4 linked regions of the Homo sapiens genome follow. The protein of the gene in region 1 purifies or fractionates together with the protein of each later gene. This does not show direct contact. Each region holds a gene or a part of one and is shown on either strand. Other genes may lie near its edges.

Region 1 (2,744 bases):
GGGGTGCAAGGCAAGGATCCCATCTGCCGATCATGTCTGAACTCCACTTTGGAAGCCTGGGCAAGTACTGCGGGGTTTTGGAAGGCAGAAGAGTGCAAATCATGGCTCTCCATGTGGCCCTAAGTGTCTAACTGCTAAGCCCTGCTTCCTGATGTTCTTCACAAGAAAAATCCAACATCAGAAATCAGACACTGGCTGGCTGCTTTAGCGCTGTGTTGGCACCAGGTGCGTTGCATGCCAGGCTCTAGAAATAACCCCTCCTATTTTTAACACCCTTGCTTCATCAGAGGGTTTCTAGTTTCTCCCGAAAACAATCTCAGGGCCTAGAGATACGAGTTGGAATTCAGAGCCTCTAAGCCACGTGCGTTGCCCTCTTGTCCCCACAAAAGACCTCAACATACCCGGGTGACCGGCCTTTCCTTCTCATTCGGCGTCAGGGGAGCCCCTGATGTGACTGGGAATCCGAGCGATTTCTATGCAAGGCTCCAGGAAAGCATGAGTTTTCTGAGAGCTTTTTATTTCAAGCCACAGTCAGATTCTACCCAGTTAAAAATGCTTCCCAGGGCTCCTGGAAGCCAAGGAGGGGACGCTGGGCTCACCAGAGAGGGTGTGTTTTATCACCGAGAAAGAGACAGGCTGGCTATTTACACGGAACACCCAGCTGGCAAACACAGGTTGTCCCTGCAATGTTCATAAAGGACAACTGGAGGCAGCTTATCAGAGGCTGGTACAGTGGGGACACCTCTGAGCTCCAGGGGAAGTTGGGCCCCTGCAAACACCTGTCCACCTGCTGGCTCTGCCTCCCCCAACTGTGGCCAGGTTAGGACTCACGTCTTGCTCTATTCCCAGGGGAGCCTGCGGCAGCCCAGAGGAACTCAGAGAGAGGAAGCAGCCTGCGACTGTTGCAGGGGGGCAGATGGGAGCAGGGTGGGGCTAAAATTGCTCCCGCCTCCTCTCTGGAAGGTTCCAGGCCAAGACCCCGCTTCCTGGGGAAGAAGCCTGAGGGTCGCTAGGGCCGCAGGAGGGTTAGTGCTCGGGCTCAGCATCCATGCAGGACTCCCATGGGTTCCGGGGCATTCGAGGCAGGGAGAACAGCAGGAGGGCGAGACCGCCGAGAAAGAGGAGGATGAAGGCGGCACAGGCGCAGGCAAAGGACCAGGAGTAATAGTACTCGATCCAGACGGTGTCCTCACTGTCAATCATGCGCTTCACCGACTGCCGCATGACCTCCACCGAGACGAGGATGCAGAGACCTGGGGGCAGAGCCAGGCATGCTCAGGGACCGAGGGGCGTCTGCCGTAGCCACCAGCCCCATCCCAGCCTGTGTGCATGGAGGAGGCGGTGACCTTGCCTTGGGGGAAAAGCTGCCTCAAGGCAGGTTCTAGATGGGAACCTGCAGAAGGATCCATTTGTCCACCCACCACCCTATTCCTGCATCCCTCAGAAGGGCAACCATGTGGCCAGGTGTGGTGGCTCACACCTGTAATCCCAGCACTTTGGGAGGCTGAGGCAGGAGGATCGCTTGAGGCCAGGAGTTTGAGACCAGCCTGGCAACATAGTGATGAGCCCTCCGTCTCTACAAAAAATTAAAATACAATGAAAAATTAGCCAGGTGTGGTGGTGCACGTCTGTAGTCCCAGCTACTAGGAGGCTGGGGCGGGAGGAACCCTTGAACCCAGGAGTTCGAGGCTGCAGTGAGCTGTGATTGTGCCACTGCACTCCAGCCTGGATGACAGAGCGAGACCCTCTTCCTCATCCCCCAAGAAAAAGAAAGAAAGGTGACCACGTTTCTTTCCTTCTTTTGTTAATCATTCTCTGGGCAGTTTCTTTGGGGCCTTGAGGGTTGAGTCGTGGAGAGGAATGGACAAACCGCCAAGCTCTGTCTCCCTCCAACCCACCTGGAGTCGCTGATGGCCTGGCCAGGTTTGCCCCTGGATGGGGATGGAGCCTGGGAAATGCCCCTCACCCAAATCTCGCGGTGGGCATGAGGGTGGAGCGGAGAATCCCCCGCGACATGGTCCCCCGGCCCCGGCGCTCAGGCAGATCCCCCAGTCTACCTGCAAAGGCATAGAACATGGACGCGGGTCGCAGCAGATAGTCCCTCTTCTTCCCGAGGGACAGGAGGACACAGAGGCTGCCCAGGATGATGAAGCCAAGGCTGAAGATGGCGATGGCGGCTGCCGAGATGCTGTACTCTGCAAACACAAGGGACACCCAGCATGCGGCCTCAGCATGGGAGCTCTTGTCATGGCTCGTTAGGGACCACACCATGCACCACAGTGTGTGTGTCAGTGTCTGTGTGTGTCATTGTGTGTGTGTCAAGTGTGTGTCTCTGTGTCTGTCTTGTGTGTGTCATTGTATGTGTGTATCTGTGTGTGTGTCAGTGTCTGTGTGTGTCATTGTGTGTCATGCATATGTGTCAGTGTGTGTCTCTGTGTCTGTCATTGTACGTGTGTGTCAGTGTGTGTCTCTGTGTCTGTGTCATTGTACGTGTGTGTCAGTGTGTGTCTGTGTGTGTCACTGTGTGTCATTTTGTGTGTCATCATGCATGTGTATCAGTGTGTGTCTGTGTCACTGTGTGTCATTTTGTGTGTCATCATGCGTGTGTGTCAGTGTCTCTGTGCGTCTGTGTCTTGTGTGTGTCGTGTGTGTGTATCTGTGTTGTGTGTGTCTGTGTGTGTCAGTGTGTGTCTGTGTGTCTGCCCACTCACCCTGTGTGCAGCTGTCTGGGCGCAGGCAGGCAC
Region 2 (2,369 bases), on another chromosome or scaffold:
GGAAAGGCTTCAGGGAGGAAGCGGCTTTTAAGCTGGGCCTTGGTTAGGCAGGGCCGCCATGAGAGGGATGGTGGAGAGCAAAGGATCGGAGGCAAGCGAAGGCTGGATGGATACAGTGACCAGAGGCTGGCAGTGCTCTTGGCTCATCCCCAACTCTGTACCCCGGCGGGTGGTGGGGACAGCAGTGGAGGCTCTACTCAGCCCTAACCCCAAGCCTACAAGTCCTTCCCAACAGGGACGATGGAAGGGGTTTCAATGCCCACCTGCCTCAAGAGGAAAGCTTTGGAATGGGGAATGGAGAATGGCAGGGAATCCCCAGACTTCAGGGGCGGGATATACCTGAGGGATGCTGATGGCCCCAGGCACTGGACGCAGACTCAACCATGGTGCTGGCAACTAGACCCTTGTCAAGGGTAATAGGGTCCCAAGAATACCAAGACGCTATGAGCTAAGGGGCAAGGGGGCCCCAGAGAGGGAGAAAACAATGACAGGGCACCAACTGGAGTCAAAACTCTTTATTGTCCTGCCCAGGGAGCCCTTCCCAAAGGAATCCACAGAGCAGGGGGGCGAGGCGGGCGGCACAGGGCCTTGGTGACAACGTGAAGGGGGAGCTGGAGTTAGGTGGGGGACAGCCCCTTCAGCTCCCTGATGGCACTGGCTGTGCTGGCAGGCCACCCAGGGGAGCCATCACCAGCATGAGGTCCACACCTGGGGCTGGGGCTGAGTGCTGTCTACACTGCTCTGTCTACACGGTTACTCTGGCACTTGTCAGGTCCACTCACCTCTCTGGCCTCAAACTGCAGGGGGAGATGGGTCCAATGCTGGGAGGCACTGGGAGGCCGTGGAACAGTGAAGAGCGGACTGCACGGGCTGGAGGATGCCAGATGGGCACACATGTCCCCCAGGGCAGCTGCCGGCAGGAGTCTGACAAAGGGACCCAGCCAGCCCCTCTGGACCATTCTAGAGGCCAGTGGTGAAGGTCCTGAAGCAACTTGGCTTATAGAGACACGTTAAGTGTACCCGGTGCACCCCATGCTGGGACCAGCTCTGGTCCCAGGGCCACCTTGACAGGTGAGCCCAAATGTCCTCCTCTCCCCATACTGGGCACTGGGCTGAGGCAGGACCCCAGCAGGTGGTGGCGGGAGCAGCTCTACAGCGGGAAGCCAAAGCCTTTCAACAGAAGAACAAAGGGGCTTCCAGGGCCGGAGTCACAGGCCTGGGGAGGAGGGGACAGGGTGCTTCTGAGAGGCAGGGAGACAACAAACCCCCACTTCATGCTGGTCCTCAGTCCTTCCATCCTGCCAGCCCCGACCCCCGGTCCACAACAGCAGGCCCAACCCTGCCTTTTGGGGTGAGGAGAAAAAAATCTGGAACCAAAAGGGATGGCGGCTGTTTCCTCGGGACCCTGGTGGGTGTGGGGCCACCGAGCAGCCATCACCGGAGGTTAAAGACCAGGCTGACGGTGAGGATGATGCCCAGGAGAAGGATGAAGGGCAGCCAGGTCTTCACGAAGGCCCCAACGCTGACAGAGAGAAAGGAGCGAGCATAGGTGGGCAGGGCCTGGTGAGCAGGCATGCGGCCCGCAGCCCTGAGCACCCACAGACCCCAATAGGGCTGCCATCCCTAAGGAAAACCCAACCACCCCCTCACCCCAAACTTGGCCAATCAAGGAAGCAGGCTGGGCATGGTTGCCCACTATGGGGGATCACCAGCTATGGTCCCGGGCAGGGGCTGCTCCGCGCTCCTGGTGATTTACTGACACCTCGCTGGTTGGGAACAGGAAACATGCTCCCCATTTCTAGGCCTCACTGGCTCCATCTATAGCCACCTACCTCTAGGGTCTCCAGCAAGAGGACCAGGAATTGCAGTTTGGGTATGGAAGCCACGTGTGCCCTCTGCCTATGGACTTCATAATGGGGACTACTGGGAGCTCTGGGGCTGGCAAGGGTCAGCAGTGTTGTGGCTGGAGCCAAGCAGCTGGGAGCCAGGGGTCTGGGTTCAACCTCTGTGTGACCAGTTATTCTCAGGGGACTTCTAAAAGCCATGCAGTACTTAAAAATATCCCTAAAAGTCTTCTTTTCAGAACCTCTTAATGATGAACGTGGCTAAGAGGAAAGCTTGGAGAGGCGGCCAGATCAGCACTAACCTATGCTGGCTCACGAGTCTGGGCTCTGCTGTGTCCATGCTGTGGCGACCATGGGCGACTCACTCAATCTCTCTGCCTAGGAAGGGACCTGTGGGGCAGTCATTATGAGAGGATCTATCTGCTCACTTTACCGGAGCACAGGGATCCGTAGAAGCCTCCCTGAGGAGCCGGAATCATTGCCTGCATTTCACCAGAGACAGCTGTGGCTAAGAGAGACCAAGGC
Region 3 (3,500 bases), on another chromosome or scaffold:
TATACACACTTGTGTACCACACACATGCTGCCAAGTCTTGAAATTCCTTTCCCTTGTAAAGAGGTTTTGGGACATTGAATTCATTTAGTTTCTTCCTACATTTGTTGTTGTTTGTTTGTTTGTTTGGTCTTCTTTCTCCTTTTCTGCTTCCTGACCCCTAACTATAGGCAAATGTTTAAAGTTCCATCATTGGTCTAAATTTCTATTAATGCTCTGCTCCTAAACCATCTCTGCCATTTCCACATCACTTTTAAATGCCTAATTCTAATGAGGAAAAGACAATGGAAACAAATTCCAGTACATTTTAAGTGCTATAATTGAATACCCCATGGAGCTGAAAACTCAACGTATATAAAACGAAACTACTTACTTAGCTCCCTTCCCCAAGCTAATTTTTCTCCTTAACTTGTCTCTTATTAATGTTAAATATAGTGAACCCCAAGTTTTTCCTCAAAGAATCAGTATGTCAGTGTGTTCAGCTCTCTTCTTCTTCGATTCTCCATTTTAAAGTTTAACTTCCTGGTTCTCTTCTCCCCCTTGCCTCTGGTTTCAGTAAACAACTTTCCCACCAGTCCTAATCAGTATTTCACATCTGTTCGCTGGTCACCTGCTCCATCCTGACTCACCCCTGGTCACCTTCTTTGACCTGAGTCACCCCTGGTCACCTGCTTTGACCTAAGTCATCTTTAGTTACCTGTTCCTAACTGTCCTTCCTGCTAGACTAGTCACCCTGCCACTCTGGCTCATATGCCTGCTCCCTTTAAAATAGCCAGTCGGAATTAGCTTAGACTGTGTGGTCCAACCATTGTCAATAGGGGAACGACACACTAGTAGGGCCCTGTGTCAGAAATAAGAACTCCTTCCCCTCCCCTGTGCAGGTGTGCTCTCTCCATTACTCCATTTGCCAGTCGCACCCTTCTATAGAAGTAAAAATTGCCTTGCTGAGAAAATTAAATTTATGTTCGAGTGCTATTTCTTTGCAGCACCAGGGAACGAGCATTTTGCATTTCTAACATTAACAGTATCCTCAAAGTCTTGTCTTTGTTTCTTTTCTTGTTGGTAACATTCAGTAATAAAGATTATTTATTGAGTAATTGAGTGTATTATATATGCTAGCAATAAACACTATATTTTACACACATAATTTCATTTTATCCTGATGACAAACCTATAAGTTAGATAGTAGTATTCTTATTTTATGGCTAAACTAATGTCATTTCAGGAAGATTAAGTAGCTTGTACAAGATCAGAGATCTATGAGGGGGCAGAGTGTGAACCCAAGAGGCTGGTTTCATACCAGAAGCTGGTCTGCCATTCTATTTTGCTGTAAGCTCCAGAGCTGTAAAACCGATTTGTTTGCTGAGTGGACTTTACCCCTCCACTTCTGTGTTCTGCTTACAGTTTCCTCTAATTGAAATGCCTTTCTTTTGGTAATTTAAGCTGTCAGATAAGATGCTACTATGCTACTACCATCAAAAACACTGGTCGAAACTTTTGTCTCCCCATCTGGGAATAATTTTTCTTCCTTTGAACTTTTGTAATGTTTTATTTAAGCCACGGTTATGACTTTAACAAATCTTCTAATTATTTTTTAAATTCATCTGCTCTCTTCTGCTACACTAGAATATCAGCTGTTTGAGGTCAAGGACTATGTCTTACCCATATTTAAGCCCCCATTAGCCCATAGTAGTTGAGTATAGGGTTTGAAGGCACGTAACATTTCTTTGGTAACCCTGCTTCTTGGAATATAAAATGGAGATGAGAACAGTCTGTTTTTCGTAGGATTGTTGTAGAAATCAAGGAGGATGGTGCTCATAAGAACTTAACACAAATATATGTGTGTTATTTACATTGTCACTGCATTAGTCTATTATGCATTGGTATAAACCTGAGGCTGAGTAATTTATAAAGAAGAGAGGTTTATTTGGCTTATGGTTCTGCAGGCTGTACAAGAAGCATGGCACTGGGACCTGCCTCTGGCTAGTGCTTCAGGAAGTTTCCAGTCATGGCGAGAGGCAAACGAGGAGCATTTGTGTCACAGGGCAAGAGAGGGAGCAGGCGAGAGAGAGGTCCATACTCTTTTAAACAACCTGCTGTCATGTGAACAAATAGAGCAAGAACTCAGTTATTACTGTGTGGACAGCACCAAATCGGTTATTCATGAGAGATCCACCCCCATGACCCAAATACTTCCTACAGGGTCCCACCTCCAATACTGGGGATCAGATTTCAACATGAGGTTCTGAAGGGACAAATATCCAAACTACATCAGTCACTCATTCACACTAAGACATACCCGTGGTGATAAGTAATTCTTGGACAATTTGCATAAGAAAGATAAAAATCCTTTTGTATGCCTTAGACCTTATGTAAAAACTGTCAATTCTGATCCAGATAGTAGAAAGTGAAAAGAAGTGTTGATGGGAAAGGAACTTTGGATCAAGGCCCCCAAGGACCTGGTCCCAGACATGTGGGTTTTCTCTGGGATTCCTCTCCCCTAACCCACTGCATCCAGGAGATCCTCTCCGTGTACCACTCTTTCTCCTCGGGAGTAGCTCACATTCCAGCACTTGCCACTCATTTCAGCCTAAATGTTCCCTCTTTGGAGAGGGCTTGCTGGCTGGCCATTTAGGTATCTCTTCCCCTTTTCTTCCTATTCCTTTCTTCCTCATAGGATGGTCATTCTTTGTCATTATTTGTTTGTATATTTATTTGTTTATTACTGTTGATTATTATTTTAGTATTTGTTTTTTCTCACCTTCCAAGTCAGGCTTCTCAAGGATCGAGTTGGTATGTGTGCCAGTGATGAGTTCAGTGCTAGGTCATAGGGGACCGTAAAGATTTGTTGAAAGGCTGGGAATTATTGGATTGCTTCAAATAAATTTCACATCAGCTGTATAAATTGGACATCTGACAGGGATTGCATGATTTGAAAATCTGTTTTCTGAAAATACTTTAAAGTCTGAAAGGAGATGTATATATGGTTTCTGTCTTTTTGTCCATTAGCTCCTCACAATTTATTTTTTTTGCTGAGTGTGAGTAGTTTGGATGTGAGGATATGGAACACTGATATCAGCTCTAGACTTCTTTGAGATTTGCCCTACAGCTACGAAGATAATAAGGATCCTCTCAGAAGGATAGCTATGTTAACAAAACTAGAATTAAATCAATTTTAGGATTTTTAACAGTGCAGACAATATCCCATACAATTGGTAAATTATTAGTATGGTTTTTTCTTTTGAACTACTGTTGTTTGACTTGGTTTGTATGTAAACATACCACTTCTCTAGATTTTGGTCTATTGGATGATTTTGATAATACCAATCTTTAATATTCATGGAGTGTTTTTAGTACATAAAGATGATATAAATGGAAAGTGTTGCATGTTACTGATGTAGTTTATGGATTTCTTGTTTTAGACATTATGTAGGTAAATGTAAATGAGAAAACAAATGTTGGACTGGGTGTCTGTTCCTTCTATCTCTAAAATATTGGCTTGG
Region 4 (3,500 bases), on another chromosome or scaffold:
AGAGCTATGCAGTAGAGGCTGAAAGATCACTAGGTAGTTGTAAAAACTTTCCAATATTGGATAAATGATTAAATTAGATTTAAGAGTCAGCAAACTATAGCCTGTAGCCCAAATCTGATCTGCTGCTTATTTGTGTAAATAAAGGATGTATTTTATCTATGTCTACTTTCATGCTACAATAGAGCGTTGAGCAGCTGCCACAGAGGCTGACTGGCTTTAAAGCTGAAATATTTACTATATGGTCCTTTACAGAAAAAGTTCTCTAACACCTGAATTACATAAGTAAGAAGATTTCTTCTAATTTCTCTATGCATGTCAACTTCAGAATGTAAGTTTTCTGAGAGCAATGACTGGCTGTTTATAAGCTTTGTCAGAACCATATTTTTCACTGGGTGGATCCAAAAACTATGAATTTTGTAACTTTAACCACCTATCATTTATTTGCCTCCTTTCCACCTCCTGCAAAGAGTATTACATGATGCATATTAATAAAACTTACTAAATTTAATTCAAATTAATTCAATTGAGCTGGGACACTTAAATAATTAGGGATACTTTAAGGTGCTGTAAAACCAAGGCTACGAATTAATAGCTTAATGATAATCACATGCTTTAATTCTTTAAAACTTAACATTTCTAGTAACAGTGTAGTAAATGGGATTATGATAAGGAAAAAATATGGCATCAGAACTCCTTTTCTTTACAGAGTAGTATAAAGGAACTAGATTTATAAGAATAAAGTTCAGATTTTTGTTTTATTGTTTGGTTCACTCCCTAACATCAGCAAAATCATTTAAATTATCTTTGCCCTACTGCTGAATGACAAAATCAGCTGCTAAAAATCTGATGCCTTATGCCCTCCCTCCCACTGAGTGACTCCCTCTAGAAAGATAATGCAAGGGAAATATTTATCAAGTTTCTCTTGGGGTCCTCTGGAGAAAATCAGGAAATCACACCAAGTAACTTTATGAATGAGATTTTCCTTTTAGCCTATCATGATTTACTAAGATGTTGGACATGAAATACTTTTTTAGTAAGAGTGAACTACAACATATCCAACAATAAATTCATATCATGTTATAAGCCAGAGAACTTTTTGTGATGATGGAAATGCTATACAACAAGCGGGGCATGGTGGCTCACTTCTGTAGTCCCAGCTATTCAGGAAGCTGAGGCAGGAGGATGGAGTTTGAGTCCAGCCTGGGCAACACAGTAAGACCTTATCTCCTTTAAAAAAAAAAAAGGTAGCTTTTAGCAACAAGTAATTTAAATGTGGCCAATGAAACTGAGGAACTAAATTTTCATTTTATTTAAATTTAAATAGACACATGCAGCTAGTGCTACTTGTCTGAAGAGCAATGGTATGAATATCTTTACAGCTAATTCTCTTAAGAATTATATTAGTTGATTCACTTAGAATCTTAAAAAAACAAAAAACACCTAGAAAAAAACAAAAAAAACAGCTAGAAATACAAGGGATGGGGATGGATGATGGTGGGGGAGAAATATACTTCACAAAGTGTGGAATTAAATAAATATTTATTTCTAGAAGGATATGCAGTGAGTTTTTCTGTAATTATTATTAAATTTGGGGGGGCCTTATATGTTTACCTTTTTGTGTTGTTTGGTTTGGTTTTTGCTATAACAGGATCTTAATAAATATGTAATAATATTCAGTTCTAAACTAGGTCTATTTCATTCATAGATAGTTTTACATATTCATCTTATTTTGGTCTCAATTTGTTTCCTTAGTTCTGTAATTTTTTTTTTTTTTTTGAGACAGGCTCTTGCTTTGTCACTGAGGCTGGAGTGCGGTGGGGCAATCACAGCTCACTATAACCTCAAACTGCTGGGCTCAAATGATCCTCCTGCCTCAGCCTCCTAAGTAGCTGGGACTAGACGCATACACCACCACACCCTGTTAATTTTTCTCTTATTTTTACAGAGATGGGGTCTTGTTATGTTGCCCAGGCTGGGCTCAAACTCCTGGCCTCAAGTGATCTTCCTGCCCTGGCCTCCCACAGTGCTGGAATTACAGGCATGTAAACCTGGCCTGTAATTTTTCTTTTAATACCATTTTGTTGTTTTGTCATCTTACCTTTGAAGACCTGTGTTGCTAAATTCTTATTTTCATTGTTTTATTTCTTTAGCCAGAATACTTGCATGTAATTTTGTCCTTTTCCTTGGATTACACTGTCTTAAATCTTTTGTATGCAACTTTAATTCTTTTTTGTGTAATTATATGTTGGTGTGATTGCCATTTCTTTCTTTTATTTTGTCATGATTAACATGGGCAGCTCTCCTACAGTAAATGAACATTCTCCTTGATGTACCTGTATCTCTTCCCCCTCTAAACTAGAATTTCAAGGCCTGAGTATTATATCTGGACTTGAGGGTAGACGGTGGGAAGGCAGGGAGGAGGGACCCTCCCCTGGAGCTCTACGTGGCTTTGTTGGTTACTTGGGTTCCCTGGTCTTGTGAGATTTTGTCGAGTGTCTTGAACAAGGTACACTCCATCCAGGAAAGGATCTAGTCACATGGATCTGTGTCCCCAATTCAGCTTACAGTCCTGAAAAATGGCAGACCTCAGCAAGTTTTCTTGCTTCTGCTGAAATTCTGACGTATTGTGTGGTGGTAGGTATATTGTTTGACATATTGTGTGATGGTAGGTATATTGTTTGATGTTGTCCAAGGGTGCTTTTTCATTCTCTTATTCATTTTTTCCAGATTGGGAAGTATTTGGCAAACGCTCAGGATCCTGAGCGTTTGCCAAATTCATCTTATTTCTCTAAATGGCTTTTAAAAGGTAGGAATGGTACTAGGATTTTATTTCTTTCCTCAACCTCCACTTTTTGAAGTTATGGTGTGAAGTTTCAAATAATCCTTTTTGAGTGATTGCTGCTTGTGATTTTGTTTGTTTCATCAAAAACTGGATTCTGTGATCCAGCTTCATTTCACATCTTTACCTGGAATTCAGGCTATACTTTTAAATAAAAGTCTTAATTGAATATGCACAATAAATATTAAAACTTGGGTAGAAGCAATCAGAAACCAAGAGAGAGAAATGGTCACAATATTAAATAAGTAATTGTCAAGTGAATCTCATAAAATCAGACAATATTTGTAACAAAATGATCAGTTCCTCTATGGGGCTGTACCATTTGTATAAGGATTTCATACCAAAAACACTCAGTTTTTAAACTGATAGGTAAACTCTCCTTTAACTTTACTTTAGCTCTCCTGCATTCTTGACTGAATGTTATTTAAACTACATTCTTATACTCACAGGCCAAGGCTGTAGATCATTTAGCCCCTTTTCTAATTTCTCAACATCTGGAAACTTTGTGGCTCCATCAGCATCTGCCATAAGGATCTTTTCTCCTCGAGAACTGAATATACCCTGTATTTTAAAATTTCAAGTCAAAGAAAATTGGTTAAAACTCAGGTTAAATTCAATGACACTTCAGTCTGTTCTACTTAAAATACCTAAGAGTGAAAGA

The links.
Region 2: the proteins of CACNG1 (region 1) and TMEM222 purify together in Homo sapiens (affinity purification with mass spectrometry; one large-scale study listed by BioGRID and IntAct). This does not show direct contact.
Region 3: the proteins of CACNG1 (region 1) and LMBR1 purify together in Homo sapiens (affinity purification with mass spectrometry; one large-scale study listed by BioGRID and IntAct). This does not show direct contact.
Region 4: the proteins of CACNG1 (region 1) and ALG5 purify together in Homo sapiens (affinity purification with mass spectrometry; one large-scale study listed by BioGRID and IntAct). This does not show direct contact.

Annotation. Positions count from the first base shown.
Region 1 is NC_000017.11:67,054,554-67,057,297, reverse strand, and holds the end of CACNG1 (voltage-dependent calcium channel gamma-1 subunit), read right to left. Parts: intron 2,196-2,744; coding exon 2,058-2,195; intron 1,254-2,057; coding exon 1,027-1,253; 3' UTR 501-1,026; downstream 1-500. UniProt on the Homo sapiens protein: Regulatory subunit of the voltage-gated calcium channel that gives rise to L-type calcium currents in skeletal muscle. Regulates channel inactivation kinetics.
Region 2 is NC_000001.11:27,334,532-27,336,900, reverse strand, and holds the end of TMEM222 (transmembrane protein 222), read right to left. Parts: intron 2,235-2,369; exon of another isoform or gene 2,147-2,234; intron 1,523-2,146; coding exon 1,435-1,522; 3' UTR 501-1,434; downstream 1-500.
Region 3 is NC_000007.14:156,757,184-156,760,683, reverse strand, and holds part of LMBR1 (limb region 1 protein homolog), read left to right. Parts: intron 1-3,500. UniProt on the Homo sapiens protein: Putative membrane receptor.
Region 4 is NC_000013.11:36,982,341-36,985,840, forward strand, and holds part of ALG5 (dolichyl-phosphate beta-glucosyltransferase), read right to left. Parts: intron 3,401-3,500; coding exon 3,287-3,400; intron 1-3,286. UniProt on the Homo sapiens protein: Dolichyl-phosphate beta-glucosyltransferase that operates in the biosynthetic pathway of dolichol-linked oligosaccharides, the glycan precursors employed in protein asparagine (N)-glycosylation.